Linked DNA regions of Homo sapiens. The protein of the gene in region 3 purifies or fractionates together with the protein of the main gene of each other region. This does not show direct contact. Each region holds a gene or a part of one and is shown on either strand. Other genes may lie near its edges.

Evidence for each region.
Region 1: the proteins of NKD2 (region 3) and PLS1 purify together in Homo sapiens (affinity purification with mass spectrometry; 3 studies listed by BioGRID and IntAct, with this or other methods). This does not show direct contact.
Region 2: the proteins of NKD2 (region 3) and DCPH1 purify together in Homo sapiens (affinity purification with mass spectrometry; 3 studies listed by BioGRID and IntAct, with this or other methods). This does not show direct contact.

Annotation. Positions count from the first base shown.
Region 1 is NC_000003.12:142,711,354-142,714,248, forward strand, and holds the end of PLS1 (plastin-1), read left to right. Parts: intron 1-147; coding exon 148-272; intron 273-518; coding exon 519-654; 3' UTR 655-2,311; downstream 2,312-2,895. UniProt on the Homo sapiens protein: Actin-bundling protein. In the inner ear, it is required for stereocilia formation. Mediates liquid packing of actin filaments that is necessary for stereocilia to grow to their proper dimensions.
Region 2 is NC_000006.12:151,447,909-151,455,498, reverse strand, and holds the start of DCPH1 (damage-control phosphatase ARMT1), read right to left. Parts: upstream 3,034-7,590; 5' UTR 2,954-3,033; coding exon 2,913-2,953; intron 952-2,912; coding exon 846-951; intron 1-845. UniProt on the Homo sapiens protein: Metal-dependent phosphatase that shows phosphatase activity against several substrates, including fructose-1-phosphate and fructose-6-phosphate.
Region 3 is NC_000005.10:1,011,793-1,018,915, forward strand, and holds part of NKD2 (protein naked cuticle homolog 2), read left to right. Parts: intron 1-7,123. UniProt on the Homo sapiens protein: Cell autonomous antagonist of the canonical Wnt signaling pathway. May activate a second Wnt signaling pathway that controls planar cell polarity.

The DNA.
Region 1 (2,895 bases), on a different chromosome or scaffold from region 3:
ATGTGTGCTGGTTGCAGAAAAGCTGAACGTTAGGTTAAGTACAAAGAATTTGTAGATTGCCTTCAGTTATATGATCAGAAGAGTCTGAAAATAATGAAAATTAAAGGTCAGATGTTTATGAATGTTCATCTATGCTTTATTTTCTAGGATAAATCTATAAGCACAAGTTTACCTGTCCTAGATTTAATAGATGCCATTGCACCAAATGCAGTTCGTCAAGAAATGATCAGGAGAGAAAACTTATCTGATGAGGACAAGCTGAACAATGCTAAGTAAGCCTTTATGGTTTATATTACAATACATGGCCCTTTAATTCTCTAAAATCCTTATAGGAAAAGTTACTATGCCCTTAAAATTCATATTTTTAAATATAACTTATATGTGAGTCTTAGATTTAAGACTCACAAACTTAACCTTTTCGTAAAACTAATCTTGTCAAAATATTTCACTCTTTTGTTAAAATATGTTAAGTGAAAACACAGTGGATAACACCAAGATATTTTTCTTGTCTCTTCAAGATACGCCATTTCAGTTGCTCGAAAGATCGGTGCCCGGATATATGCATTACCTGATGACCTCGTAGAAGTGAAACCAAAGATGGTTATGACGGTGTTTGCATGCTTAATGGGAAAAGGACTGAACAGAATAAAATAATCATTTCATATGATTTTCTGCCACATTAAACATATTGTATGCCTCACAGTTTACAGGATTCTGAAATGTAGTGGGTGTAAAACCAGAGATTATTTGTATGCTCAAAATAGTTATATATTCATTAATGAATTCAATATCCTGTTCATACTAGTTAGAGCTGGTCAGCCTTTTTGGGTAACACAGTTAATTTACCAACTGATACAGATAATAGAATATATTCATAATCAAGCTGATACTTCATGATTAAATTATTTTTGTTGCTTAAAAGTCGTATTAGACAAGACTAAATCATTCTTTTTTATGGTTCAAAAAAGATGAATACAAACGTTTTTGCAGGTTCTGCTGTGAAATGTGGTTTGATTTTTTTGGTGTGTTAATTTTGATCATAAATGCATTCATACTCATAATCCAGTTTAATCCTTTTATTTGCTTCCTCCAACTATTTAAAGTGGTCCAAAAACACTTTTCTGTAAGTTTCTATACTGTCTAAAACCTTATGGTGACCAGAATTGTTTATTAATATCAAACTTTTTTATATATGAGAACTAATTCTTGAATAAACCCCAAAGTTCACTCTCTTGTTTAAGTAGCAGCAGCTTTTTACTTAAAATTTAATTTTAACTACATTGATACTTTACACATCCTAGTTTGGTAACACAGCTTTAACTATGTCATGCAACATATATATGTTGGTAGGATGTTATTAGAGAGATATGTGTGCATATATATTTTTTTGCACCTGAATCACCCAGCTTTTCATAAGTGGTATGTTTAATTGGTCATTCAGCCAACCATCAGTATTTTCCCCCCACAACATGTGTAACACTTTTCAGTCTGTGGATATCTGATACATTAAGATTTCTTTTTATAAGTATTCATTTTGAATGTGCATATAGTTATTTGACCCCTTCCAAATACTTGTAGCCAAACATTGGCTAGAACATCCCAAGATATGCTGACACTGTCCTGTTAGCTTCATATTATACTTGCTAGTTTAGGTCTCTATAGAAGCCCTATATAATTTAGAATATGCCCACTGAATATCTTTAATAGAAAGTAACATAAAGCTAGTATTCAATGTAGAGTATTTTCATATGTTTTTCACAGCCCGTTACAAATTGGCAATGTTTGGTTAATGTTTGTATTACTTGGAAATCGCTACAGCTTGGACTATTTTTTTCTAAATTTTTAGCATTAGTCCATTTCTGCTGCTAACAATTGAATCCAGAAATCTACTTTCTCCATCTTCCACTGTTAGTGCCAGTGAGCAATACTGTTGTGCAACAAAAATGTCACTTTATCTCAGTGTGAATGAGTAGTCTAAATTCCCTTTCTACCATTGATTTAAATATATATATTGGTAAGAGAGACTGCCCATGTGTTTAGAATAGAATTTTTTAAATGAAATGATCAACAGGTGGAATTTGAAATATATTCTTCTACAAAAGAGATTTCTTTCCCTTTTATATTTTGATGATTGTTTTCTTAAGATTAAGATATGTTCTTGCTCTTTTATAAGATTATTTAAATTATGTTTCCCTCTGATTTTTTTTCACCATTGTATTTACTAAGTTATTGGATTTACATGAAATCTGGCACTTTAGGGTGTTCTTTTTCTCACAGAGTATATTTAATAAAAATGCTGTGTATATAGAAATGTGTTTATATTTATTTCATTTGAAGAAAAATATTCAGCCTTGAAAATTAGTCTAGCATAAGCTTATTTTCCAGAAAAGAAAAGAATTCCTAAATGAGTTAGTAAAACAAAAAAAAAATTGTGTCTGATTTCTTTGAAGATGAGGGTAGTTCTTTTGTTCTTAAATATGAAGAATTATTAAAAACCAACTGTGTGATTACTACAATTTAGTTTGTGCTGAAATAATTCAGGTGAATCAATCCATTCACAAATTTATCATTTATTATGATCCAGATACTATGCTAGACACTGGGGATTCATCTGAAAAAAATACAGATGAAGTCTCCTGACCTCATGTATCACATCCATGTATGATATCCTAGTAGAGAGACAATTCGTAAATAGGAATTTTAGACAGTGATAATGCAGTAGAAGAAATAACATAAGGTAATGTGATAGAGACTGACTTGGGAAATGGAGTGGAGATTATTTGTATTTGGGTGGTCAGGGAAGGTCTCTCTAAGGATATTTGTGCTATAAGTGTTCAGCAGAGAGAACAAATGTAAAGAACCTGAAGCAGGCAGTCCTGTAGGCATCCTAGAAGA
Region 2 (7,590 bases), on a different chromosome or scaffold from region 3:
CATTGTCTATGATGCAAAGACCTTTGTTCACGTGTTTGTCTGCTGACCCTCTCCCCACAATTGTCTTGTGACCCTGACACATCCCTCTCTCGGAGAAACACCCACGAATGATCAATAAATACTAAGGGAACTCAGAGGCTGGCGGGATCCTCCATATGCTGAACGCTGGTTCCCCAGGTCCCCTTATTTCTTTCTCTATACTTTGTCTCTGTGTCTTTTTCTTTTCCAAGTCTCTCGTTCCACCTTACGAGAAACACCCACAGGTGTGGAGGGGCAACCCACCCCTTCAATAACATAGTTATTTGGATTTTTCCTCATCCATTAATTGAATGGACAAAGTGATTTCTAAAGTCCTATTCTGCACTGAATGCTAATGAGTCCCAACTTGAATCAGTACAATGTGTCAATCAATTATAATTCATATCACTGAGCTTTGCATAGCAGCTTGAACTTCCAGGACTCAAGATCTCAAATTAGTAATATAAATACTGCAACTCAAATTAAACTTGAAATTTAAAAAGCTCTTCTAAGCAACTCAATTGCTTAGTCACTTGACTAAGTCAATTGCAAGTCTGTTGCCCAGTCACCAATTACAACATTGCATATATTAGAAAATACATTCTGAAGTCTAAATAACTGACAGAATTAATTATTGGAACACAATCATTTTCTAAATTGAAGATTGGCTGTTCTATCTTCATTTCAATGTATTACCTTAAAAACAAATAAATACTTGGCCCATCTATTGATTTTTACATTTAAAGGAAAATTGATACCTTCAAGAACTATTTATTATGTTTCTGTTGAGAAATTAACAAAAAATTAAAAGTTAAAACAATTCTTACCTCTCCGTGTTTCTCAAAAAATTCACTTTTATGTCGATGCAATGTATCAATAACCTTAGTTAAGATCTGTGGTATTCTGTCTTTAATTGTAAGATATGCAAATGATCTAGAAAAGAGTCACATGCAATATATAACTTAGCAGCATCAATACTAGAAGACTGGCTATCTTTTAGTTTCTGGAACACTTCATGTATATTAAACTCCTCATACAACTATTAAAAGATAGACAAGTATTGTATGATTACTATATTAAGACATAAGAAAACCTGGAAAATTCGCTGGTATGTCATGGAAGCCAAACTGTCTTGGTGCCTCTAATCCCAGATTCTCCCATGGAGTCTGTTTAATCATTCTTATCTTTCCTATTCTATTGCTTTTATTTTCCTAAATCAGAAACTCGCTTAGCAAAGTGATAGGATAGGGAATGGATTAGCTTAGAAATCAAACAGGCTCTTGTCCCAGGTCTACTATCTGCTAAGTCACCTGCTTAGAAAGATGAATGAAGCAATGCATCTAAAACCACCTAAAGGGTCTAATGTGCTTGAACAACATAAAGAATTAAAGGTACTTTTAAGCCTGTTTCTCTCCATTCTGTCTATTTTCTAAGTCAATTTTAATTATTTTCAAAAATTTTCCCCTTCTCTGCCTTCTCTATCTGCACAATGGACTCCTTCCATCCTATTCTGCCCCTAAGCAAATGAAGGCGTGCTACTGTCTCTTCCCACTCAAAAAATCAGAGATTTTATAGAAGTGTTCAAGAATGAAGCAAGCTGGAGATGAAGAAAAACTTATACCTGCATTAAAAAATTAAAGATATTCTTGATTTTATTCATACAAAACCCAAGATTTACAGATTATCATTTTATATCATTCTAAGGAAATACATGATACAGGTAGAAAAAAAGCTTTATTTGGTGGAGAAATTCTGTGCAGTTTTAAATATAGAGCACAGAGCTTAGCTGACTAGTGTTTTTATCTCCAGATCACAGGAGACAATTGTTAAATTACTAGATTGTAACTTGGGTATTTCTTCAAAAGGTTTCCTCAAATGATAGCTATAGAACTTTAAGAAAAAAACTGCACACACTTTCCGACTCTGTGGTGCTTTCAGTACCACCCAAAACAGTGATTAGGTTTTAATGCGCATAATAACTACGTTGATCAGAATTTAATTTTTAAAAATCATTAATAAAAGAAATCACTAATACCTCAGAGGGTGAGCAGGAACATTAAATCAACTGTCACTTGAATTTTCCCAGGCAGTAGGTATAGTAAGTCCTTTTTTGAGATTTTACTTTAATTGGAAAGTATTACTGTTTTCCTAACTACTACATTTCCTGCACCTCTGGAACAAAGTCTCTGGCCAGGACTGGAGTGAGGCCAGAAGCCCTAGGGCGCAAAATTGAAGGAGATACTCTCTATACTTGCATGACCTGAAACAGTGACTGCCTCAATTTGGGGCCATTGGCGCCACTTTGTTGGCCTCAACCTACTTTCTGCCCAGGTTTATTTTCTTCAAAGTGTTCTCGTCTTTTGCAATATTTTGAAGTAAGGACAAATTTCAAATATAAATTTGGCCATTCGATTTATGCAAATGGATGTTATTTGCACGGTCACCCACAACTTTACCCAAGAATCAGTAGCGTGACGACTATAAAGCAAAAAACTAGACAGTTCTTACTGTGAGATTACGATTTGATCAACAACAGGGAGAAACCCGTTTCTTAATAGCGCTGAGATCCCCAACTCTTACGCAGAATTTTAACGCCCCCAAAGCGCGTCTATTAAAGTGAATAAATAAAAAGTGACCGCCAGGAACAGACCGCGAAGCTGACCCCTGTCCTGATCCTTACGAGCAGCCGCCGCGGGCAGGCTCCCTCCCCGGGGCCGCCTCCCTTCGCCTCCGAGCCAGTCCGCGAAACCCGCAAAGGCGCCCCGGAAAGCCGCGCCCGGCGGCGGGACTCGAACGCAGCCCACCGGGGAGCGGGCGCCCTCCGCTTAGTCCCCACAGGCTCCCGGCGAGGCCCGGCTTTCCGCAAAAGTGGGGAGGAGAAAAGCTAGACTAACCCCACGTCCTGTCCTGAGAGAGACGCCGGGACGACAGCCATCACTTTCCGCGATCCCGGCCGCAAAGCTCGGCTGTTCAATCGCCGCAGAAACAGAGGCGGTACCGCCGCGAAGGAGGAGCTGAGAATGGGGGTGGTGTGGCTTTAAAAAAAAAGTGCTTTTGAATAAAGAAACTTTATTTGGTGCCCGATCAAACGGCAAACAGTGGCTCGCCAGAAGACCCAATCTTCCGGGGACGAAGGCGGGGCCAGCGGAGGGCGACTAGAGGAGCGGATATGGAAGCGAGCGAAAGCCGGAAGCAGGCAAGGGACCGGGAGGTCCCAGGGCCTAGGGAGCGGAAGAGGTCGCGGCGACGCGGCTCACGTGGTCAGACAGTCACGTGGCCCGAGTTTCTCCCGCTAAGTGGGACCAGAGTTCAGTGCGGCTGCGCAGTAGCGGGGGTGGGCGGGAGCGCCCTTCCAGGAGATGGGTTGGCTGCAGTAGTGAGAGGCTGGGGGTGCGGCTCTTTCCCTGCAGTCCTGCCGAGGAAGCGTGCGTCCCTGGCGCTTCCTTCTTCTCTTCCGGCGGAGAGGTTAGTGTATTGCCTTTTCTTTAGCAGCTCGAGTGGTCCGGCTTGGAGGTCTGCGCCCTGGCTCCTGGCCGCCCGGAACGTGTACAGTTACGGGTTACGCCAGTGCGGCTGTGACCCTTTGCCTCTTACCGTGATCTTTGGTCAGCTTAGCTGGGAGTAAAAAGCACTCAATTAATGAACCCTTTTTTTGAGCCAGTGCACCGCGGTAACTGTAGAAATCGATAAAATAATTTTGAGTTTGAGGAATTGAACGGCATACTCCCAAAGATGAGCGCCACTTAGCTCTCGAATCGTAGCCTAGCTGTAATCGATTTTCTTAATTGGTGTAATTGTTCTCTAAAAGTTGAAATGTGCCCGGGAACTGAGTAACTGCCTTGTATTTCATTTTAAAAATTCGATCGAATGCCTACTATGTGCTGGGCGCTATTGTCAGGAGATATAATAGGAAAAAACACAAATCCGTATCCTCAGGGAGCTTCCATTCTGGAAGGAAGACACAAAAATCTGCCCTTTCCTCTTATTTTTTTCCTTTAGCTTTGTGTCTCACGTATTTTACTGATTTACCTCGTTTTGTCTGTCACTCCCAATGCAAGGTTCAAAAGATTCAAAAGATAGGATTTTTGTCTATTTTATTTTCAGCTGTATTGTCAGCAACTAGGACAATACCTGGCACATGATAAGAACTGAGTTCGTTTGCAGTATGAATTAATAAACTAAAAATTAAAGGTGTGCAAGTGATGTTAAACAATGGAGAAATGCAAAGTGGAGGAAGATAAGAGAATGGATGCTGGTTGTGTTTTTTTTTTTTTTTTTTTTTATTGATCATTCTTGGGTGTTTCTCGCAGAGGGGGATTTGGCAGGGTCATAGGACAATAGTGGAGGGAAGGTCAGCAGATAAACAAGTGCACAAAGGTCTCTGGTTTTCCTAGGCAGAGGACCCTGCGGCCTTCCGCAGTGTTTGTGTCCCTGGGTACTTGAGATTAGGGAGTGGTGATGACTCTTAACCAGCACGCTGCCTTCAAGCATCTGTTTAACAAAGCACATCTTGCACCGCCCTTAATCCATTCAACTCTGAGTGGACACAGCACATGTTTCAGAGAGCACAGGGTTGGGGGTAAGGTCACCGATTAGCAGGATCCCAAGGCAGAAGAATTTTTCTTAGTATGGAACAAAATGAAAAGTCTCCCATGTCTACTTCTTTCTACACAGACACGGCAACCATCCGATTTCTCAATCTTTTCCCCCCCTTTCCCCCCTTTCTATTACACAAAACCGCCATTGTCATCCCGTCCCGTTCTCAATGAGCTGTTGAGTACACCTCCCAGACGGGGTGGTGGCCGGGCAGAGGGGCTCCTCACATCCCAGTAGGGGCGGCCGGGCAGAGGCGCCCCTCACCTCCCGGACGGGGCGGCTGGCCGGGCGGGGGGCTGACCCCCCCACCTCCCTCCCGGACGGGGCGGCTGGCCGGGCGGGGGGCTGACCCCCCACCTCCCTCCCGGACGGGGCGGCTGGCCGGGCGGGGGGCTGACACCCCACCTTCCTCCCGGACGGGGGCTGGCCCCCCCACCTCCCTCCCAGACGGGGTGGCTGGCCGGGCGGGGGGCTGACCCCCACCTCCCTCCCGGATGGGGTGGCTGGCCTGGCGGGGGCTGACCCCCACCTCCCTCCCGGATGGGGTGGCTGCCGGGCGGAGGGTCTCCTCACTTCTCAGATGGGGCGGCCGGGCAGAGGCGCTCCTCACATCCCAGACGGGGCGGCGGGGCAGAGGTGCTCCCCACATCTCAGACGATGGGCGGCCGGGCAGAGACTCCCCTCACTTCCTAGATGGGATGGCGGCCGGGAAGAGGTGCTCCTCACTTCCTAGATGGGATGGCGGCCGGGCAGAGACGCTCCTCACTTTCCAGACTGGGCAGCCAGGCAGAGGGGCTCCTCACGTCCCAGACGATGGGGGGCCAGGCAGAGGCTGCAATCTCGGCACTTTGGGAGGCCAAGGCAGGCGGCTGGGAGGTGGAGGTTGTAGCGAGCCTCGATCACGCCACTGCACTCCAGCCTGTGCACCATTGAGCACTGAGTGAACCAGACTCCGTCTGCAAACCCGGCACCTCGGGAGGCCGAGGCTGGCAGATCACTCGCGGTTAGGAGCTGCAGACCAGCCCGGCCAACACAGCGAAACCCCGTCTCCACCAAAAAAGTACGAAAACCAGTCAGGCGTGGCGGCATGCGCCTGTAATCGCAGGCACTCGGCAGGCTGAGGCAGGAGAATCAGGCAGGGAGGTTGCAGTGAGCCGAGATGGCAGCAGTACAGTCCAGCTTCGGCTCGGCATCAGAGGGAGACCGTGGGGAGAGGGGGACCGTGGGGAGAGGGAGAGGAGGGAGAGGGAGAGGGCTGGTTGTGTGTTTTTAATGTAGTGGTTGGGGAAGGCTTCACTGGGTAGAAGACATTTTAGCAAACATCTGAAGGAGGTGAGGGTGTGAGCCTTTCAGATCCCTGGGAGAAGAGCGTAAGGAACAGCAAGTGCACAGATCCAGAGACCAGAATGAGGAGCAAAATAAGCAAAGGAGAGTGCTGTCAAAGTGGTGATAAAGGACAGATAATGTAGTGCCATGCAGGCCATTCTGAGGGGTTTAGCTTTTTTTTTTTTTTTTCGTTACAGAATCTCACTCTGTCGCCCAGACTTTAGTGCAGTGGCGCGATCTCGGCTCACTGCAACCTCCACCTCCCGGGTTCAGGCGATTCTCCTGCCTTGGCCTCCCGAGTAACTGGGATTACAGGCACCCGCCGCCACGCTCAGCTAATTTTTTTGTATTTTTAGTAGAGACGAGGTTTCACCATGTTGGCCAGGCTGGCCTCGAACATCTGACCTTGTGAATCACCCGCCTCGGCCTCCCAAAATGCTGGGGTTACAGGCGTGAGCCACCGCGCCAGGCTTTTTTTTTTTTTTTTTTTTTTTTTTTGAGACAGAGTCTCGCTTTGTTGCTCATTCTGGAGTGCAGTGGCGCAATCTCCGCCTCCCAGATTCAAGCCATTCTCGTGCCTCAGCCTCCCAAGTAACTGGGATTATAGGCCCATGCCACCATGCCCGGCTGATTTTTGTATTTTTAGTAGACACGGGGTTTCGCCGTGTTGGCCAGGCTGGTCTGGAACTCCTGACCCCAAGTGATCCCTCCCAAAGTGCTGAGATTACAGGCGTGAGCCGCCATGCCTGGTTGGAGGGCTTTGGCTTTTATTAAGTGAACCGTGAAGCCACAGCTAGATTTCGCGTTGAGATTCAACTTCAAAGGATCACTTTGGTTGCTGTGTTGAGAAGAAACTGTAGGGGGCCCAAAACAGAATCAGGAAAACTGGTTAAGAAGCTATTATAATAATCCATGGGAAGGATAGCAGTTTGGATCAGGTAGTATTATTACTGATGATGAGCAGTGGTCCCTAGAAGGCCCTTGGGATTTACTGAGAAGTTGGATATGGAGAATAAAGAGTCAAGCTGGACCCCACGTTTTTGGCTTAGCAGTTATAAAGATACTTATTACTGCTCATGAATGGGAAAGACTGGGAAGAAAGGGATGCAAGGGATTCTAGGGGTATAAGGGAGAGGTTAGAATGGTAGACCATGGAGTGTAAACTGGATATGGAGGAAGTGAAGTCATGGGGAGTGAGAGACAGTGAAAAGGTGGTTGGATCATTGACTTGTGGGTCCTGTTGGGGTTGAAGAATTATTGGAATTGGGTAATAGAAGGAGTGAGATGCAAAGATAGGAGGTGGTGCTTAGAGAGTAAAATGGATGAAACTGAGATGAGGAGGTCCGATGTATTGATAATGACAATAGGGCCCTGTCTGATAGAAAAACAGTGTAAGGCACAAATGTAATCTTAGGCTTTCTAGAAGGTGCAGTGATAAAAATGGGCTGGGTCCGGTGGCTCACGCCTGTAATCCCAACACTTTAGGAGGCCAAGGCAGGTGGATCACCTGAGGTCAGGATTTCAAGACCAGCCTGGCCAACATAATGAAACCCCGTCTCTACTAAAAATACAAAAAAATTAACTAGGCATGGTGGCAGACACCTGTAATCCCAGCTACTCGGGAGGCTGAGGCAGGAGAATCGCTTGAAC
Region 3 (7,123 bases):
AACAGCAGCACTTTCCCAGACAGGTGTGTCTCTGCACCCCCGACGTGGCTCTCCCTGGCGACTCTGCGGAGCGCCACACTTTGCTTTTGGCGGGACCCGCACGGCTTCATCACCGAGTGTCCCTGAAGGGCTAGGGCCATGGGATCACTGGTGACGGTGCCGTGAAGGTCTGGAGAGTGGATTGTGAGGGATCCGGAGTCCCTGGGGATGTGCGTGGGTGAGGAGTGGTGCCATGGTGGCAGTGCACTTGTGTGGCTGTTTTTCCAAGTGGTAGTGACTGCAGGGAGGATGGCTTCAGGCCTGGGAACAGGCTGCCCCTGCACACTCACCCTCACCATCTGGTCTGCGAGACTAGCTTTAATTTCTACAGCGCTCCCTGAGGCTGGCGGAAAATGGTTCTGAAGACAAGAGTCACTGTTAACTGGAATGTTGTTGTGAATGGAGCACAGGCTTCCATGAAGTAGTGCTGAGGAAGGGTGCGCTGGGGCTAACTCCAGAGGCAGCATTGTAGCGAACACTCGTGACAGACCAGCCAGTGCGTGGAGGAGGCCGTGGCCCTGGCCTGCACGGGGGGCTCTTGCCCACATCTGCAGGAGGCAGCAGGCACGGCTCTGAGTGGCCCGTCTAGGGCAGGTCCCAGCTTACAGGAGGCACTCGCCAGTCCCATCCCCATGCCACGGCCCTTCTGAGTGTGCCAACATGGTACATGTTTCCTGGAAGGGAGCCAGGAGGACCACAGTCGTAAGACCTGCTGGCTCTGTCCAGGGCTGAGCTCCAGGCCAGGGCCCAGGCCTTCACCTGCACTGGCCTCTGGCTTCCAGCAGCAAACTCCATCTGCCCTCAGCATGGCCTTGCTCACGGGAACTGGGCTCAGCCCCACTACATGGCTTGACGCCTTCCGACTGGAACCAGCCACAGTGCCCCAGAGGCTCATATGCCTGCAGCTGGCCTTCCCCCAGAGGCAGGGGTGGGGCTGCCCCTTCCCTGCCCCTTCCCTGCCCCTCCTGGCCACCCAGGAGCCAGCGCTCACCTGTCCTCTGTGGGTCCAGAGAGCTGGATGTGGCAGTGGGATGCCCAGTTCTTGGTCAGTGGGAGCAGTTTCTTGTAGAAGATCCTGGAAAATTCTTCATGGCTTCAAGCACAGTCTGGACGCTACCGCATCAACACAGAGATGCAGGGTGGGGGCAAGATACACATTTGCAGGAGAGACTCGGGCCAGTGCACGTGCGCCCAGAGACAAGGCAGTGTGGACCATACTCTGCTTGGTGCTCGGCCACGTGCCACACAGAAGGAGAGGTTGTGGGTGCCCAGTCCACCCAGCTCTGCATTTGGGGGTGCAAGCCACTCCAAGATGTCCAGGAGAATGGCAGCTTCCAAAGGGAGCAGGGGTGCCTGGGGATGCCTCCAGCACAGACTCTGAGGGCCAACCTTCTGTCTTCTGTGACTCATGTTCCGGGACCCTGTGTCCTCATGGAGCTGAGGCCCATGTGGGGCTTTGTGTCAGAGCCGGCGGCAGCTGCAGTGTGTCATGGCTGCCCTTTGCTTTCTTTTTGGTGCCCTCTGTGTGCCTGGCCCTTGGATACAGGCAGCCGTGTTCCTACCCTGGGATGTGGCCCAGCCATGTGGCGAGGCCAGCACAGACATGCACAGAGGCTCAGGCACAGAGGGAACCGAAGGGAGTTGCCAGGCCACCTGGTCATCCCCCCTTGTGGGAGGCGTCGAGGTCACCTCTGGGCATGACACCTGATGCCCAGCACCTGAGAGCCATAGGACGGGTTGGATACCATGTATGTAGTTTCTGTGCCAGCCTGGGCCTTGGGCCCACTGAGGGCTGTGTGTGCGCCCAAGCTCTCCACCAAGCCGCAGGCATCCCCTGTCCTGCAGCAGGGGCTCTGGGGTGCTGACTGGGAGAGCGTGCTGACTGGGAGAGGCTGCTGCCGGTGCCTGGCCATGAGGTTGGGCCAGTGGATCTGTGTTGCCCATGGTGGAGGCCGGAGGCTGGCCAGTGGCGTGGTCCTGCCCGCTCGGGTCACTGTACCTGGACAGTGCAGATGTGCATTCTCAGTGTCGGCCCCTGTGTCTGTGAAGTGCATCCTGAGAAGCCCTGCACATGGACCAGGCAGGTGTCTGGATGGAGGCCCTGGAGCACAGAGCGTCCCTGCCACAGGGCCTTGGGCTAGAGTTGGGGGTTTCACAGACGAGGCCATCTGGGGCAGCTGTCACCCCTGGACTTCCAAAACAGCTTCCTGAAGCTAAAACTGCCCATTTTGCTGCTGAATGAGCTGAAGTTTTAGATTTCTGCAGGTGAAAGAAGACAGGTGGCTGCACCCTGTTCTCCTCAGTGGGCTGAACCACCATGGGAAGCCTGGTGCTGCTCCGTCCTCCTTCCTTCCTACTTGTGGCTGAGTAATTTGAATTCCTTTGAGGTTTTCATCTTGTTTTGGCTAAAGAGCTTACATCTTTCCTTTTCTTAAAAAACCCAGGCTGGTTTGCAATCCTCGGAAACCAATCATCAGCCCTGCAGCTTTGGGCCGCCGTATGCCTGCATTAGGGTGTTGGGGGTCCATCAGACGCACACGCGACTCCTGGGAGCCGCGGGAACTGTGGCTGGTGCCGGCCAAGGCAGTTGTGCCAGAAAGGGCAGGGCCGTCTCGAGTACCCATCCACGAGTGCCCTTCGGTGCCCTGGGCCCCTGCTGTGCATGCCTCCCGTGTGAGCAGCAAGGTGATGGTGAGATTGGAAATGCAGTTTCATCTGCCTTGTAGGAGTGGCTGGCTCTCCTTTGCCCCTGGGTGGGCACCGCTTGTTCAGAGCTGGCAGTAAGTCCATGGCCACCCCAGGTCCAGGCCCCGACTGGGGGAAACACACACCTTGCCACTGTCCTGTCTAGGCTAGGGTTGGGGGTTCGGCTCTTTCTATTTCTCAGGAAGCCAGGAGTCTGGGCCAAGGGCTCCTGTCCTCCACCCCCGCTTTGCGGCCAAGGGATACCCACTTGGTCAGCCCCGACAGAGGCTGTGAATGAAGTCCTAGTCAAAGACCATAGTTGGGAGCCACCATATGGCCGTGTTACGTGTGGCCCCCTCGCCAGCACCAGGTTTCTGTCATCCCATCGTTAGCAGAGGCGGCTTGCATGGTGGCTTGACAGCCTCTGGACCCGGCTTCGGACCCGGTGCTGCCACTCACAGCCTGGCCACATCCCTCGTGCCTGGGCCACCTGCTTCCCCTTGTGGTCCTGTGAGGAAAGACAAAAGGGACAGCTCCACGCTCCATAAGGCCAGGCAGCGAGGGCCACCTGGAGAGCAGCCAGGTGTGGCCGGGCCCCTTCCTGGCCTTTTGCCCCAAGTGCCGGGGTGCTGCAAGCCAGAGGGGTGCGTGAGTCCGTGAGCTTGTGCCAAGATGCTGTGGGCCTGATTCGTACTGCACAGTCATCTGAGCTGTCAGCAAGCTCTCACTGGTTGGCAGTGCCCACAGCCTCCCTGGCGTGGCCAGGTGTGGTGGGAGCAGAGGCCAGTGGGTGGGAGTGGGGTCCACCGTCCTTCCTGTAGAGAGGAAGCCTCTGGCCTCCTGGCTGCTGTTCTTGAGTTGGCAAAGCCACACTTTACGGAAGCGGTAGTTCTTGAAGCCAGACACACCTGAATTTGGAGTTGCCCAGCCTACCCCAGAATTTGTAGACAGCTACCTGCCAGATCACTGGGTCCCTGGAGCTCTGAAGGCTGAGCCCTATGTCCTTCCTGCAGGGCTCTCAGACAGATGCCTGCATCAGAAACTCCCTGGGTTATGACGAAAGGCCTATGACACCCCTAGGGAGTTGGGGAAGCCTCAGGAGCATCAGGAAGCAGGAGGAAGCAGGAGCCACTGCTGGGGTGAGGTCAGCATTTAGAGGCGGTCCTGCCCGCACATGCTGCCGCCAGCATTTCAGGGTGGGCTGCTCCCAGCAGGACTGCAGATCGGCCTGTCCATGTGTGGAACCCGAGGGGGCCTGTGCTGCGTCCTGGGGCATTCATGCTGGAGGGTTCCTGTGGCTCCGTCCTCTCACAGGTCTTACCAGCCGTGGCCCCTCTCCTGTTGGACTTGCCTTCCTGAACATGGGGAGGGGTCCCGAGCCCAGGACCCCTAATCAGTTCCAAGGGCTCCAGAGCTTTCAGTCTCTGCCACCTTCTGAGCCGTCGTCTGTCACAGATCATGACCGTCAGCTGTCCCTGGAGGTGCGGAAGGAGCCCTTCCTGTGGGGCTGCTGGGTTAACGCCGGAACCATGGGGAGCAGAAGGCGCGGTGTGTGAGAGGGGTCTGCCCAGGTAGCAGGATCCCCCCCCACACCGGACACTTCCCCAGCGTGGGGCGGAGCTCGTGGTGCTGGCCTGGAGGGACACACGGTGCTGACCTGGCTGCCGCCTCTGGACTGCGAAGCCTGGACCTGCTGGGACAGGAGCCTTGCAGAGACCCCGATCCGCTCTCACGGCGAGCTGCACCCATGCTGGCTGATGGGAGCTTTAATCTGCTTTCATGTTGGCAAATACTTGGCAGGGCACCCTTTGGCAGCCTTTCACGCTGGCGTGAAACAAATTGGGTCTGTTCGATCCTGTCCTGCGCAGAGCTGGAATTCACTGGTGGTGATGGCCAGCCCTTGGCAGCTGGAGGGGGAGGGTTTGTTTTCCTTTTGTTCTGCAGAATTTTCCAAGGAAATCGTAAATAGTTTTGCGCACCAAAATCAGAGAAGCTAAAAAGCACGAAATATTGTAATACAAACATTCAAATTGGAGATTATTTTAATGGTAAGTGTCTTGGCGGATTTAGACTGAGAGCCTTGCCAGAGGCCGATGGAAACGGGGGTCCCTCCTTGCTGTCTCCAGTGAGGTTCTCCGTGAGGCACTCACGTCGGTAGCTGGCAGGACCCTCCAGGGCTCCCACCTGCCCTTAAGGCCGTGGTCCTGCGTGGATGTACTTCCAGGACGAGGCCTCTCACATCCGCTAAGGGGGACGTGACAAGAGCTACAGCAGCTGTTTTTGGATAACAGAGCCTACCCCATCCTCCTTTCCACAAAGGATAACAGAGCCGACCTCATCCTCGTTTCCCCAAAGGATAACAGAGCCGACCCCATCCTCCTTTCCACAAAGGATAACAGAGCTGACCTCACCCTCCTTCCCACAAAGGATAACAGAGCAGACCCCATCCTCCTTCCCACAAAGGATAACAGAGCCGACCCCATCCTCCTTCCCACAAAGGATAACAGAGCCAACCTCATCCTCGTCCTTCCCACAAAGGATAACAGAGCCGACCTCATCCTCGTTCCCACAAAGGATAGCAGAGCCGACCCTATCCTACTTCTCACCAGGACGTGCCTGGACATGGTGCAAAGCTGCTGCCCCTGGTGGCCTCCCTGCTGCCCCGGGGACGTGGGTAGCTTGGCTCTCTGTGGCTGGCGTCTGGGCCTCAGCGTCCTGGGGTCCTCAGAGGGACCCCATGTCCCTCTGCCCACCATCACCGCCTGCTCTCTTGGCTGCCCAGGTGCACCCAGCTCAACTGTCCCGAGGGCGTGCCAGGCCAGTGGCCAGGTCCGTGTGCCCTGCACCCTTCAGGGCAGCCACTCATGTCTGAGACCAGCCAGCCCCAGACAGAGCTGGAGCAGGGGCCATTTCAGTGGCCCTGATTTTGCTCCTGAGGGCTGTGGTGTAACACGAAAGAACGTTGCTGTAGGCTTCCAGCCGTGGGATTCCAGGGCTGTCTTTGCCTTGTGCTGCTGGACAGAGCAGGACCTGCACCTCTGTTTGTCACAGGCTTGTCCTGGGCACCGCCTCAAAAGGAGGAAACAAAAACAGAAGGGCTGAGTCCCGGAGCCAGGACCCCAAACCAGAAGTCCCTCCCAGAGCCCACAGCCCCCCACCACGGGGCCGCCCTGCAGCCCCAGGGCCTGAGCTGCTTTCTGGATGCTGGGAGAACCGGACAGTGGCTGCTGGAAGGCAGGCCTGGAGGGCTCTGGGTGCTGGGGTGCGGGTGAGGCCGGGCATGGGTGCAGGCCTGTGGTGCTGGGGTGTGAGAGATGCTGGGCTGGAGTGTGGGAGAGGCCAGGCAGGGGTACAGGGCCCGTGGTGCTGGGGTGTGAGAGAGGCCGAGCTGGGGTGCAGGGCCTGTGGTGCTGGGGTGTGGGACAGGCCAGGCAGGGGCGGGGGCTGCCACTTGATGTGGGTGTCAGGACAGTGTGTGGTGAGGAGGCATGGAGGAAGCGTGGCCCCCCAGAGGCTTCCAGGCTGGGCAGCCACTGCAAAGGCCCTGAGGCAGGAGTAGGCCTGGAGGACGGGACGGTAGCAGGCAGGGGCTGCGAGAGACACAGCGGAGGAAGAAGAATGGCGGCCCCCACCCATCTCCCTCTGCCAGAAGGAGCCACGGGCACAGCCTACAGATGTGCACTGGTCTCTGTGCTGTGGGAGGCCAGACCTGGTGTCTGTGAGGAGCACCACAGCTGCAGACCTGCCGGATGACCCTCGGGTGACACTTTGGGGTGGAAGACCCCACCCACCCTGCAAGCCATGTTCCTCGGGCTCCGAGCCCCATCCTCACATCTGTGGAGCAGGTGGGACCACTAGCAGGGGCTTCTGGCCCTTCCTCTCCTCCCATTGATTTGTTGAAAGCGATTTAGGTTTTCTGTAAAACAAAGCGGACATGGGCCTGGGGAAGGTGCTTGCGGGTATTTCATGAGCTTTTCTAGGCCTGAGACATGTTTTAGGTGGCAGCGGGCTCACGTGTGTTGGGGGGAGAGACTGGTCACAGTCAGGGCGACTCAGGGGCTTGTGCTCAGATGGTGACGCCCAGCCCCCTTGTCCCCAGGGTGACAGGGAGAGGTGGCAAGAACTGGCAGCTGCCCACAGGCTGAGCCGAGCCCAGCAGAAAGGCCCAAGGCCGGAGCACAGAGGTGGCCTGGATGCTTCTGGCCGGTGGTCAGGACCCTGCCAGGCCTTGCTTGGAGGCATCTTGTGTATGAGGGGAGCCCTGCCCATGCCAACCACCTAGCTGTGCCCAGGGGAAGCCGCCCCAGAGGCCCATTCTCGGGGTCTGTTTGCCTGTCGTGGGGAGAGAGTGTCACAAGCTGGGCCCACAGGGAGGAACATCCTTGGCCTCCGAAAGGGC